Linked DNA regions of Homo sapiens. The protein of the gene in region 2 interacts with the protein of the main gene of each other region in a pairwise test. Each region holds a gene or a part of one and is shown on either strand. Other genes may lie near its edges.

Region 1 (7,189 bases), on a different chromosome or scaffold from region 2:
TCATTTATTCTTATAGTTTGCCATCTGAAACTCTTCAACTAGGAACTAGTTACATTAGAGAATGAGAGATCAGATATAAGGCCTCAAAACCTCACATGTGCCCAGGGCTTACGGAGGGCCCAGGAGCAATTTCTACATCTCTTTTTTGTCTACATGGGTTAATTTATTTGCTCCCTGAATTGTTATTATTAAAAGTAAACAAAAAGGAAAAAATGGCATGAGCAATTCCTAATGAAAATCAAATTAGCTTTAGTGAGCCCCTACCATTCCACCATTAAATGGATAAAATAGACAGACAGTACAAGAAAATCATGATTTTTATTTTTAATCTGACTAACCACAGTTCTTTAGCATCCTGTATGTGAAATTAGTATCATGGTTACTTTTCCCAGTTGGCCATTTGGCAGGGGATCTAAATAGAAAAACTAAGTATGGATGGCTATCTGATCATGGAATGTCAAGGAATGATGGATTTGACTTCACGGTAAAAAAATACAGACATTCAAGTTTCCCCAAATTCTTCCTATGTAGTCCACTGGGATAGTATATCTTTTCTGCAAGTAGAAAGCATTGAAACAAAGATCCCATAAACAACCACCTAAGCTGGGCACGGTGGCTCACGCCTGTAATCCCAGCACTTTGGGAGGCTGAAGAGGGCAGATCACCTGAGGTCAGGAGTTCGAGACCAGCCTGCCCAACATGGCGAAACCCCTGTCTCTACTAAAAATACAAAAAAATAGCAGGGTGTGGTGGTGGGCACCTGTAATCCCAGCTACTCAGGAGGCTGAGGCAGGAGAATTGCTTGAACCCGGGAGGTGGAGGTTGTAGTGAGCCGAGATTGCGCCATCACACTCCAACCTGGGCGACAAGAGCGAAACTCCGTCTCAAAAAAAAAAACCCACTTAAATGAAGTCATTGTCTTTTCACCCATTTAATCAGGCCTTCATTATAAGATATGTGGGTACAATTATTATTTTTGTGTTAGAGATAAGGATTCTGAAGTATAGAAAAGTTAAGTTACTGGCCAGGCATGGTGCCTCATGCCTGTAATCCCAGCACTTTGGGACCAACATGGCAAAACGGCATCTCTACTAAAAATACAAAAAATTAGCTGGGCGTGGTGGTGTGTGCCTGTAATTCCCGATACCTGAGAGGCTGAGGCACAAGAATTACTTAAAAAAAACCCCGAGAGGCCAAGGTTGCAGTGAGCCGAGATCATGCCACTGCACTCCAGCCTGGGCGACAGAGTGAGACTGTCTCCAAAAAAAAAAAAAAAAAGGAAGAAGAAAAGTTAAGTTACCTACTGAAGGCTCTTACTCCCAAGGCCACACTTTTAACCACTATGCAAAGTGCCTCTCCTTTTCTCTGACAAGATAGTGAAGAAATTAATAGTCCTCAGTCCTTTCATAAGATATAAAAAGAAAACAAAAATAGTACAGCTTTTAAATAACTCTTCACTGTAGCAGTTTTCACAAACAGGTCTACTTTTAGTATAAACCAGTATATATACCAGAATGTTCCAGGCAAGTGGTTTTAACTATTTCACACTTCCATTTCTCCATGTTACAATAAGACTACCAGTTTTTACCCCTTTCCTACTTCATATAAGTGTATGAAGTTGAGTAATATGATGTCATCAAACATACTTTGAGCTTCTTGGAAAAGTGATATGTAAACACAAAGTAGAGTGTTTATAAAAACAGTGTCAATGTGGTATGTATCCAATGTAAAATAGATCAAATTATTTTATTAGAGATTCGGACAAAAATAACTCTTTAATCTTATCTATTTTTTCATCATTTTGCATACTGCCTGTGTCTGTGGCTTTCAAGGGCAATCTGAAAGGGAACTAGGTCTGATACGTGTTGATTGGATTCGCAGTTTAGCATTCTCCTTATTGAGGAAATACTGCAGTACCCAAGATCTTGGCTGTTTCCAGGTTTTGGAAAAATCTCAGGTCAAAATTGTGTTGCCAGATGGGATTATTACATAGAGGAAAGTTGGCTGTGAATTTCCATATACCAAAGGCCATCCTAACTGTCTTTTATGAAGGACCCAACAGGCTTTTATTATAATTCAAAAATAGCCAGGTCACCCTAGGACTTTTTCCAGTGTTACCAAAACATCACTTTTACTGCCCAAACGGAAGTAGGCCATTACCTCACAGTAGAAAATAAAAGAAGCTAGCTTGAGACCAAGGTAGTTTTAAAAGGCATGAAGGATGAGAACCACCATTCTTATTTAGTGGCTCTGGACAGCGTCACTTGGAAACAGAACTGCCTCATGCACAGATAACAATGCCTGACACCCATTACACTTTACATGCACGTTCACATCTGCCTTTTGGATAAAGGGCAAGAAGAAAGGAACATTTACCATTGAGAAAGAATTAGAAGCCTTGTTAGTCTCCTTTTAAGACTTCTTCACATTCCACATGGATTAACTGTTAGGGAGAAAAACACTGCAAAAATAATCAGCAATGCATTTCGGAGGCTCATCAGCTCCCGGCTGACAGCTCACGTTAGTTGGATGAAGGCTGTGGATAGGCTTTTAGATGTGCTAACCTGTAATTTTGTTTCTAGAGTGGCCCAAAGTGGAAGGAGTTTTCACTCCCTCTCAATAAGCCCTCTTGTACGGTTGTGACCTCTGGCCTATCATAGGTTTTTGACGATAAAGGAGAGCCCGGGTTTTTGAGGTTAAGGGAGAGTTCCCTGACATCTTTGGGGTGAAGAAGAGATGGAGGGAGCAAAGCTGCCAAAGACCTCCTGTGACATTTCCACTAGTATCCACCTATAAGTAAGTGCTGGACTATGATTCCCTGGGGAGATCAGTGGCTCTAAAGACAGGCCCCTGGGCTCTTTCCTGGCTCTGACTCAGCTTCAAACCTGCCGTGCAACTGCTCAGAGTCTAAATGTCTTCATTTATGGAACTGAAATAATCCTGCTAAGATTACTTTCTTTGCTTCGTGATGTTTGCCTGAGAATAAGTAGCTGGGACTACAGGCGTGTGCCACCACGCCCATCTAATTTTTGTATTTTTTGCAGAGACAGGGTCTCACCTTGTTACCCAGGCTGGTCTCGAACTCCTGGGCTTAAGCAATCTGCCCACTTTGGCTTCCCAAAGTTCTGGGATTACAGGTGTGAACCATCACACTCGGCTAAAATGTTTTGAAAAATGGAAACATTGTACAAATGTGAGATGTTGTGCAACATGTCACTGAAACACGGTGGTATAAGAGAAGTTTTGGGAACCAGCAGACCAGAATTAGGCCTGAGAAAATCTTACAGTAAGCAGACCAGAATTAGGCCGTCTGAGAAAATCTTACAGTAAGCAGACCAGAATTAGGCCTGTCTGACAAAATCTTACAGTAAGCAGGCCATCTTCCCAGGCCTTCTCTTTTCTCCAGATAATGAAGAAGGCTTTTTAAAAGCAAAGCCAACTTGATTTGTTAATTGATCATCCAACTTCTTAACTGTCTTTTTCTCATGGTAAAATACCGAGAACATTGTGGGTGAGGAGCAAGTCGGGAGGTGGAACCCACCCCCGCACCCTGCCTCCAATAGATTGTATGTGTGGGTCGCTATTGCTGGGACCCACGAAGGCTGTGGATTGAGGACACAGGGTAGAAGTGGGATCTTCTGCAGGTCAGTGTCAGATGTGTCTGTGTGATGTAGTCATGGGAGAGGCGCGAGTCTTGGGCGGGTGTATCTTAGGGGTGTGGAAGTGTCTGCAAGGGCCTCCGTGGTATGTCATCACATTATTTATATCATGGGCATGACCCTGAACGTTCACCCGAGAGTGGTGAGAGAAAGGCCAGGATTTAAATCAGTCTTGACAGCGCAGATGAAGTTTGTTATTGTTTTCCGCCCTTCCCGAGGGACTTCGGAAATGGCCCCCTGAGAGGTGAATTCTTGGAAAGAATATGAGGGCGGTTAAGGCGTCTCTGTCTCAAACTCTCCGGATTTTTTGCAGCTACCAGGGACTGCGAGGGTCTGCGTCCTGGGTGGAAGGAAGCGGCGTCAGTCAACTTCCTCGCAGCGGCGGCAGCGGCGCGGGCTGCAGCGGAGCGCGCGGGTCTGCGCATCCCGCCCCCGGGTCGGGAAGGGGCGGAGCTGGGCGTCACCCGCCCCCGGCGGTCTCCTCCTCCCGGCCGCTCCCCCGAGCCGAGCCCGCCGCGGTCACAGCCACCCGCGGGAAGCTCGTGGCCGGGACCCCGAGGCGGGAGCGCGGGCTGGGCCGGGCTGGGCTACGCGCACGGGCTCGGCCGCCGCCCCTGCCGGTGAGTCCCGCCGCGGGAGGCGCGGAACGGGTCGAGTTGGGTATTGGGACCGCGAGGTCGGGGAGCCCCGGGGCCCGAGCTCGGGAGGCGGGGACGTCAGGATCGCGGCGTTGGGGAGTCCTCGCACCCCGAGCTCAGAGGGGAGGTCCAGAGTCGCAGCGTTGGGAACCTGAGGCCAGGGGCCGGAGTTTAGGGCCCCGATGTTGAGTCTCCGAATCCAAGCCCGGAAGGGGGGACGACGGGTTAGGATGCTGGGGAGCCCTGGAGCTCTGAACGGCTGTAGTGGGGTGGCCAGGACTGCGATGCTGGGGAGTCATGGAGCCTGAGCCTGGAGAGCTGGCGGGGGTGTGGGGACCGCGATGTTGGGAAGGCTGAGCCCGGAGGGCGGGAGATTCAGGACCAAGACGTGGGGGAGTCCGACAGGGCAGAACGAGGGGCGTCCTGTCCGCATTTGTGGGGCGCCCTCCGCAGGGCGGAGGGGAACGGAACCTGGGAGGGGAGTGCGGAGGAGAGGAAGCCCGGGGCGGTAGGGAGAGCCCGAGGAAGGGCAGCCCGAGGTAGGGGAACCCCGGAAAGAGTAGGGTGGGTCTAGGCATGTGCTTTCGCCGGGGAAAGATGGAGGGGGCTTCTCTGAGAGGGTGGGCGCGAGGAGCGGAGTTGTGATGGGAACCGCCGGCAGCTGGCTAATGGGCGGATGCTGGGGCTTGGCTGGATGGGAACGCCGCGGTGGGGTGTCGGAGGTGGCTGGTGGGGCTGGAACGCTGGGAACGTCTGTCTAGGCTATGAGAACGCAGCGCCCTCGGTGGAACAGGGTCGTAGATAACTCGAGAGGGAATCTAGTCTAGGGAGCAAGACCGGGCATCCCCAGACGGAGGCGGGTGGGGACCTCGCACTCAGCGCGCTTGGGGAATATTCGGAGCCTGGGTTTGGGGGCTGCTGCACCTTGCCGACCCGGTGCGGGGACCTGGAGGTAGCCGGGCACAGCAGCTTCCTGTGCAGCTGTGGGTGCTCCAGGCACTGGCAGACTAGTGGGAAGTCCAGGAGCCTTGGCAGGCTCATTGTCTTGACCTAAGTTGCATTCCATATTTCTTAGCTGGGTTAGAAATGATTTTGTCCAGGAACCCAATGAGAAGAGCCTGGGCTAAAAAAATTAGTTATGGAGTGAGATTTCAAATGTACAGGTAATACCTACCCGTGTGTGTGCGCGCCTTAGGGATAACTCATACAATACACTGTATGTGTGATTTTTAGACCCACGTGTGTACTACTTGTTCCAGTACTCTGAGAAGCTGTTTCTGGGTAAAAACGAGGAAAATCCACAACAAATACACACACCAAACAATGTCCACAAACGCACTGCATTCCAGTCGAGTTAAACATGAGAGTATTGTACAGTTTGGGAGTATTTGCTTGTCAGTGAAGACTCCTGTTACTGAAGTTAATAGGAGTTGCCTGCATGGAAGGTAGACTGCCCTTGACTGCCCTGTTAAGGTTATCCACAACGTGTACCCAGCCCTGAGCTGCTGCACCCTTGACCAGGTCAACTGGAAGGGAGCCAGACTGCTTAGGACCTCAGTGGATGAGTATCCAAGTGTGTATCTAAAAACAAAGGACCAAGGCATGGCTTTGTTTTTGTTTTTGTTTTTTATTTCTGCTGTTTGTCCTTGGGTGCGTGTCCTTCAATTATTAGTTAAATGTTGACTATCTTACATTAACCCATCTTGTATTGTTAATTATGTATGGTAATTATTTCAGTTATTTGGCGTAACAACCAATTCTGGAAGACCCAGAGTAGAGGAATCTTATTAAGTGGATATATCCATTGAAAGATATGTTTTTTTTTTTTTTTTTTTTGCGGGTGTGTGTATGCACCAGATTTCCTTCTGGTGCATATAGGTCCATCTTCTGACACACACTGAGATTTGAGCTTCATTGGATAAACAAGGATTATTTTGGCAACTAGCATTTGTTGGGTCTGTTTTTAATTCATGAAAAGGAAATCTTTAATAATTATGCAAGTTAACAGGATAGAAAGCGATTTATTCATTTTACAAGAATCATTTCAGGATAAGCATATTTCCATTAAGGGTGTGTGTATACCTTATTGAGTGGTCAGGACCTTGCATCAAAATCTGCACTATCATTCCTGCAGCAGTGTACTTATTCACTTGGACGTAACACTTGCTGATGCTTCCAATTCTTTATCCAAATGTTAAAATAAATATGCCAGTATTTATACATTCAAATCAGTATTTCTCCCCTTCAAAAGCCTGCTCTTGGCAAGCTGTGTACTAATTCTAGTGATGCTGTCACTACTGAGAATAATTTTGGAGCTCCTGCTTTGGAGTTGCCTTCCGAGTTTGCAACACATTTCCTGATTGCCTCAGTGGTGGCAAACCTTCCTCAGCTGGGAAACAGCCAGGCACTGTGCGGGGCCAACTTGGGCTTCCGAGGTGGGGAATCGAGGTTGTCAATAAGTATGCTCATTAAAGTAATGAAAATTCTCTTGAAAGACTGGCAGTTCTAAAAGGGGCATTTAGTAATGGCATGGAGTATGTATTTAGGATTGGAAGGAATTACAGTTGGTCCCTGAATAACACCGGGGTTAGGGGCTCCCATCATCTCCACAGTGGAAATTTTGAGTACAACATTTAACTCCTCAAAAACTTAACTACTTTGAAGCACAACCTTCATTTTGGTGTTTATGCTCTGGTATGTATGTAAAGTAATTGGTCCTGTCACTTTATTGTTATAGCTTATGGCTTATTGGGCTAGAAAAAGTAAGCCTTTCTTTGCCCCTCCTGATACTTGTTACTAGGCAGTCTCTGTCATTGTGGATTTTTACAGAAAGCAAAACAAAAATACAAAAGACTTGTTGTCTCACCAAAAAAAAAAAGGTACCCAGAAAGC
Region 2 (7,021 bases):
TAAGAACTTAAGGGTCTGTTTATAGAGAATGTTGGCTTTAGTATATGGGCTTTGTAACATCTATTTTGTCTCTTTTTAGTGGCCTTTGTTTTCTCCAGGATTCTAAGTTGCGTATAAATGGCTTCTGAATGAATGAGGTGTTACTAGGTAGTATTTATAGTAATGGACTTAGCTGTCTTAACAGTACCTTTAGTGTTCAGAAAATTATCTGCATTTAAGATCTAGTCCAACTGTCATTTTAGAGAAGGAAGAACTGAGACTCATAAATTACTTGGACAACTAGTTAGTAACTATTAGGGCCTTGGACCCTCCAGAGTCTCAGTTCCATGCTGCTTCCACTCTGCTACATTCATTCCACAAATATTTGTTGAGTGTTAAGAGCCAGGCACGATCATCACAACAGAAAAACTTGCTCCCTCCTTTCGTGAAATGGACAGTTGAGAAGGAAAGACAAAATACAAACCAGTAGGAAATCGCAGCTGATAATTGAGCAAAGGAGAGGCATTCAGTGAACAGAGGACCTCAGCATACACGGGTCTCTGCCAGGAATACTCATCCCAAATACCCACATGATTTCCTCCCTCCCCTCATACAGATCTTTGCTCAGGTGGTGCTTCATCAGAGATGCCTTCCCTGGCCACTGTATCTAGACTAGCACTCCCATCCCTTACTCTACCTGACGTTTGTCATCACTTGACATTTATTCACTTGCTTATTAAAAATCATTTTCTTCTCCCACTAGAACGTGAGAGCAAAAGCTTTGATTGTTGTCATTGCTCTGTCTCCAGTAGCAAGAACAGTATCTGACACACGTTAGGTGCTCCATAGATGTTTGTTAGAGGAATGAATAAATAAATATAACAGGGAATTGGTCTAATCAGGAGGTTTGGAAAAACTTCACTGAGGCCAGGTGCAGTGGCTCACGCCTATAATCCCAGCACTTTGGGAGGCCAAGGTGGGCAGATCGTGAGGTCAAGAGATGGAGACCATCCTGGCCAATGTGGTGAAACCCCGTCTCTACTAAAAATACAAAAAAAAAAAAAATTAGCTAGGCATGGTGGTGCACAGCTGTAGTCCCAGCTACTCAGAAAGGCTGAGGCAGGAGGATGGCTTGAACCTGGGAGGCGGAGGTTGCAGTGAGTCAAGATCGCGCCACTGCACTCCATCCTGGCGACAGCGCAAGACTCCATTTAAAAAAAAAAAAAAAAAAAAAAAAAACCAGCAAAAAAACACTTCACTGGTTGAGCTGAGATCTGAAGGAAAAGCAGGAGTTAAGTTGGAGGAAAGTAGAGAGGAGTGGGAAAGGACCATGCCTCATTCACTGTTGTATCCCTAGTGCTTGTCACATATTTAGTGCTCAGTGAATATTTCTTGAATGAAAAAATGTCTGAGGCAGAAGGGACAAAGTGTGCACAGGCCACGTGAGTGAGCAAGTCTGCTGATTTCCAGGAAAGGAAAGAGGGCCAGTATAACTGAAGTGAGGGTTCAGGGACACTGTAGTAGCCTGGTGTGACACGTCACAGGAGAGGTGGGCAGGGCCCGGTCATGAGAACCAATTTGGAACTGAAGAAAACAAATGGTAAATTCAGTGTTTTCCTTACAGTTTATATTGCATTCCCCTGTAAACTTGAAGTGCCTCGTTTGCTGTAAAGTAAAAATGCAATTCTTTTCCTGTAGCTGGAAATAGAATGGTATTCAGGACTAAGTGATGTGTTCGGGGTTGCCATGACCTGCATCAGCGATCTAACCAAAAACCAAATCTGCCAAGCCACTATGTCATGGGGTGTCCTTGATTATGACTGTTTTAGTTGTGCAGAGTATATCAGTAGTACTTGGCAAAGTTTAACTTGTTTCCTGTTCATTTTGGTTTCTCTATGTTAGCCTTTGTTTTGGTAACTTTTAGACCTTCTACAAATCTTTCGAATTTTAACTTTTGAATTTTAATAAAATGACCTAACAACAACAAAACTAGTTATTTTCTTAGCCACTGTAACTGTAGAAATACAGGTTATATAGAACTCAAAATAAATTTATCATTTACTTATTTATTTATTTTTTTTGAGATGGAGTCTTGCTCTGTCGCACAGGCTGGAATGCAAAGGCGCAGTCTAGGCTCACTGCAACCTACGCCTCCCGGGTTCAAGCAATTCTCCTGCCTCAGCCTCCCAAGTAGCTGGGACTACAGGCATGTGCCACCACACCCAGCTAATTTTTTGTATTCTTAGTAGAGACAAGGTTTCACCATACTGACCAGGCTGGTCTCAAACCCCCAACCTCATGATCCGCCCGCCTTGGCCTCCCAAAGTGCTGGGATTACAGGCGTGAGCCACTGCACTCGGCTATCATTTATTTCTTTGCTTTAGTCTAGGTCATTGGTTAACTATGCCTATTCAAGAAAGTTGTTTCTATTCACTAACGTGAGAGCACCTTAAAATGTACTGCTGTGTGTGTGTGTGTGTGTCTGTGTGTGCGCGCGTAGCTTTAGAAACTATATTTCACCTGTAGAATGCATCTATTGCTTATAATAACATGTTAAAGTAGTGATACCTCAGAAGGATTATAACCCATTGTCCTACAGATTTTCTAATGTAGATTAGGGAAGGAAACCCAGCTCTACTTTTGCAAACTATTTAAAGATTTGCAACAAAATTAATTGATTAAAATCATTAACTACAGATATTCTCGGGCATTTTTTCTGGTCAGTTTTATGCACATTGAGAGTGTATGTGCCAGAAACAGGAGCTGATTAGAAGAGGTTTTCCTATAGGATGAGGTTTCTAAAGTCCAGTAAACTTGAGCATGTGGAGTTTCTCCACATACTGCTTTTCAAAACTGTAGTGATCTGTGAAGTAAATATAATTCTAATGCCCAGAAGAGCATTGAGCCTGTGGACTTTGACTCTTTAGAAAGGGAACCAGCGTCTGGGGAATATGGTGGGGTACTAGCAGTAGGTTAGAGCTTTAAAAATCGGTGTCACTGGCTGGATGTGGTGGCTCACGCCTGTAATCCCAGCACTTTGGGAGGCCAAGGCAGGTGGATCACCTGAGGTCGGGAGTTCGAGACCAGCCTGACCAACATGGAGAAACTCCATCTCTACTGAAAATAGAAAATTAACAGGATGTGGTAGTGCATTCCTGTAATCCCAGCTTACTCAGGAGGCTGAGGCAGGAGAATCACTTGAACCTGGGAGGTGGAGGTTGTGGTGAGCCGAGATCAAGCCATTGGACTCCAGCCTGGGCAACAAGAGTGAAACTCCATCTCACAAAAAAAAAAAAAAAAAAAAAAAAGGCCAGTGTCACTTCATTTTGCCTTGAAGATACCACAGAAGACTTATTCTAAGACTAGATAACTTACACTTCTGATGGCAACTTGCTATTAATACGTTTTAGGGATTTTTGCTTCTGAGGTTACAGATAATGTTCAGACTGCTGATATTAATAAAAATAATATTTAATTTATATTCCTGTTGCACTTTTTATTTGCTTTGCAGCTTTGATTAGTTTGTCCTTTGGAGGAGCAATCGGACTGATGTTTTTGATGCTTGGATGTGCCCTTCCAATATACAAGTATGTAAAATGTTTGTCTTTCTGAATATTTAAGGGTAAAATTTTTCTACTTTTAAAGCTTAAAAAAATGTTTTTTTACTACTGTAAAAGTAATGCAGAGAAATGTTCACTTACCAAACACATACCTTTGTAAAAATCACCACTTAAAGTTTGTTTCTAAAGATTTTAGGACACCAAGATGCAAATAATATTTTTGGCTGTTACCTGCTCTTTCACTACTGCTGAGTCTGCAGTGGCAAGATAGCTACACAGTACCTCAGCCCTCCTGCTCAGTTTTTAACATCTATTGATAATACTAATTACAAGAAAATTTAAAATGTCTTTTTGCAAAAAAATACCATAAGCAGTCAAAACACAATTAAAAAAAAAGAGAGAGATGTAAACAATTACTTTCCGGCCGGGTGCGGTGGCTCACACCTGTAATCCCAGCATTTTGGGAGACCAAGGCGGGAGGATTGCCTGAGGTCAGGAGTTCAAGACCAGCCTGGCTAACATGGTGAAACCCCATCTCTACTAAAAATACAAAAAAATAGCCAGGCGTGGTGACACATGCCTGTAGTCCCAGGTACTCGGGAGGCTGAGGCAGGAGAATCGCCTGAACCCAGGAGATGGAGGTTGCGGTGAGCCAAGATCACGCCACTGCACTCCAGCCTGGGTGATAGAGCAAGACTCTGTTTCCAAAAAAAAAAAAAAAATTTCTTTCCTTAGGATAGAAAGAACTTCTCAAAGTTAACATTTTAACATTTAGATAAATTAGAAAAAGATGGACAACTCAATAGAAAAATAAATACAAAAAGAGAACTACAAATTGCTAATAAGCACATAAAAATATCCCCAGCCTCACTCAAAACTAAACAAAATCTATTGACAAAGACAAGAGACAGGGCAAGCAGGGACTCTTTTGTGCTGTGGGGGGAGTACACATAGATAGTTTTCTTGGAGATAAGTTTGCTTGTAGCTCTCAAAGTATATATTCTTTGAGTTAGCCCTTTCACTTGTTAGACTTTCTGATACAAACCCACTTGCAGATGTTTACAAAGATATATTTAGTGGGGGAGAGTATGGATGTTCAAGCAGCCTTGTTTATTTTTTGGTTTTTGTTTTTGTTTTGTTGTTTTATGCGTTATTTATAAGAGCCAAAAAAAATTCTGAAAACATCCTAAATGTCCTTCAAAAGAAAAATGGTTAAATTATAGTAAATCTTTTAATGGAAATACTAGGCAGTCTTAAAAAGAATGAGGAAGAGCTGTAAGTGCTAACATGTAAATATGTTCAAGACATATTGTTAGAAAACTGCAGGGACCCATTCATATTTTAAAGTTTATGTGGAAATGTGGAAGGGTCCCTGAGAAGCTCAATAGGAAAGTGGGCAAGAGGAGATTTGGAACTTTTAGTCTTTACTTTTTGTGCTTTTGTACTGTTTGAATTATTTTTCTTAAGCATATATTCAATTTTTAATTTTTTTTCTTAAAATATTTAGGAAATGGTCAGGCGCAGTGGCTCATGCCTGTAATCCTAGCACTTTGGGAGGCCAAGGTGGGTGGATCACCTGAGGTCAGGAGTTTAAGACCAGCTTAGCCAACATGGTGAAACTCCATCTCCACTAAAAATACAAAAATTAGCCGGGCATGGTGGTGCACGCCTGTAATCCCAGCTAGTCACGGGGGCTGAGGCAGGAGAGTCACTTGAACCCAGGAGGCAGAAGTTGCAGTGAGCCGAGATCATGCCACTGCACTCCAGCCTGGGCAGCAGAGCGAGACTCTGTCTCAAAAAAAAAAAAAAAAAATTTAGGAAACATAAGTAGCTGCTTATCATTAGCCTCTGTACAATCAGATCTCCACCATGATACCTATTTTATTCTATGGTAGTTTTAAGGGCATCTATTTCTTTTTAACTTTTTATTTTGAAACAATTTTAGATTCTGAAGAAGTTGTGAAAATCATACACAGAGGTCCCCTGTACCCTCCACACAGCCTGCCAGAGTCATAAGATCTTACATAACCATAGTTATCAAAACCAGGAAATGACTGTGGTACAATACAGTTAACTAGATGTAGAGTAAAAGCCATCTATTTTTATTGTGATAAATTCTATATTCTGACTGAAAGTGTTCTTACTTTTAGCTTCTTTTCTGTATTTTGATTTCTGTAATTTGGGAGTTCCTCGTGTTGTAAGGGAAGTTTAGGGTTGTTTCAGCTTTATGCTAAGGTTGGGTATCATCCATTAGAAGTCAAGCGATTGAATCTTGATTTTTTAAAAAGACCATATTTTGTGTGTAGGAAAATGACATAGCAAAAATTACATTAACTTATTTTTCTTTTTCTAGCAAATACTGGCCCCTCTTTGTTCTATTTTTTTACATCCTTTCACCTATTCCATACTGCATAGCAAGAAGATTAGTGGATGATACAGATGCTATGAGTAACGCTTGTAAGGAACTTGCCATCTTTCTTACAACGGGCATTGTCGTGTCAGCTTTTGGACTCCCTATTGTATTTGCCAGAGCACATCTGGTAAGTGAATATATTCTTCCATTAATGATTTTATATTGAACATGTGTTACATTTTTCTCAAGCAAAGTTTTTGTTAATGACATGAAAAGAGGTGAAAGACATAAGAGCCTAGAAGATAGAGATTAAAATCTCACTTTATTGTTTGTTCTTGTTAACTAATAAAAGTGATATTGGAGAACGTGGCTTGGATCTGCAGCAGCTGTTGGCTTGCTAATACTTTTTTTTTTCTTTTTTTTTTTTTTTTGAGATGGAGTCTTGCTCTGTCGCCCAGCCTGGAGTGCAGTGGCGTGATCTCACCTCACTGCAAGCTCTGCCTCCCGGGTTCACGCCATTCTCCTGCCTCAGCCTCCCGAGTAGCTGGGACTACAGGTGCCCGCCACCACGCCCAGCTGATATTTTTTGTGTTTTTAGTGGAGACGAGGTTTCACCGTGTTAGCCAGAATGGTCTCGACCTCCTGACCTCGTGATCCGTCCGCCTCGGCCTCCCAAAGTGCTGGGATTACAGGCATGAGCCACCGCACCCGTCTGGCTTGCTAATACTTAACTGTCAGAGTTGAGCATATCAACTCCCCCAGTGCTGAACAACCCAGGCCTATCCTGTAAAACCTAAAATATGGAAGACCTGAGAAGGTGCATGTGCTCTGCAGGCAGAAAAGCACTGAAGAGGGGAAGGGGCTGGCTACGGGTACTCAGTTCTTCCTCCCAAACTCACTGATCCACGCGCCTTCATCTCTGGGGAGGTAGAGAAGACAGCCATATGGAGAAGGCAATTGTTTTCCCACCCCTTCAAAAGAATGTACATGGGTGTGTTTCCATCTGTGATATGCTAAAATTTAATCTACTCTAGATAGATTTTTATATTAAGGAAGAGTAAGCACATTCCTTTATAAACAGAAACTTGTAGAATTTTATGCTGCTTCTTCATAGCCCAGAAGTCAAGCT

The links.
Region 1: the proteins of LEPROTL1 (region 2) and PAQR8 interact in binary tests that used the Homo sapiens proteins (3 or more experiments, as listed by UniProt).

The regions. Positions count from the first base shown.
Region 1 is NC_000006.12:52,357,971-52,365,159, forward strand, and holds the start of PAQR8 (membrane progestin receptor beta), read left to right. Parts: upstream 1-4,180; 5' UTR 4,181-4,279; intron 4,280-7,189. UniProt on the Homo sapiens protein: Plasma membrane progesterone (P4) receptor coupled to G proteins. Seems to act through a G(i) mediated pathway. May be involved in oocyte maturation. Also binds dehydroepiandrosterone (DHEA), pregnanolone, pregnenolone and allopregnanolone.
Region 2 is NC_000008.11:30,098,408-30,105,428, forward strand, and holds part of LEPROTL1 (leptin receptor overlapping transcript-like 1), read left to right. Parts: intron 1-3,490; coding exon 3,491-3,566; intron 3,567-5,892; coding exon 5,893-6,079; intron 6,080-7,021. UniProt on the Homo sapiens protein: Negatively regulates growth hormone (GH) receptor cell surface expression in liver. May play a role in liver resistance to GH during periods of reduced nutrient availability.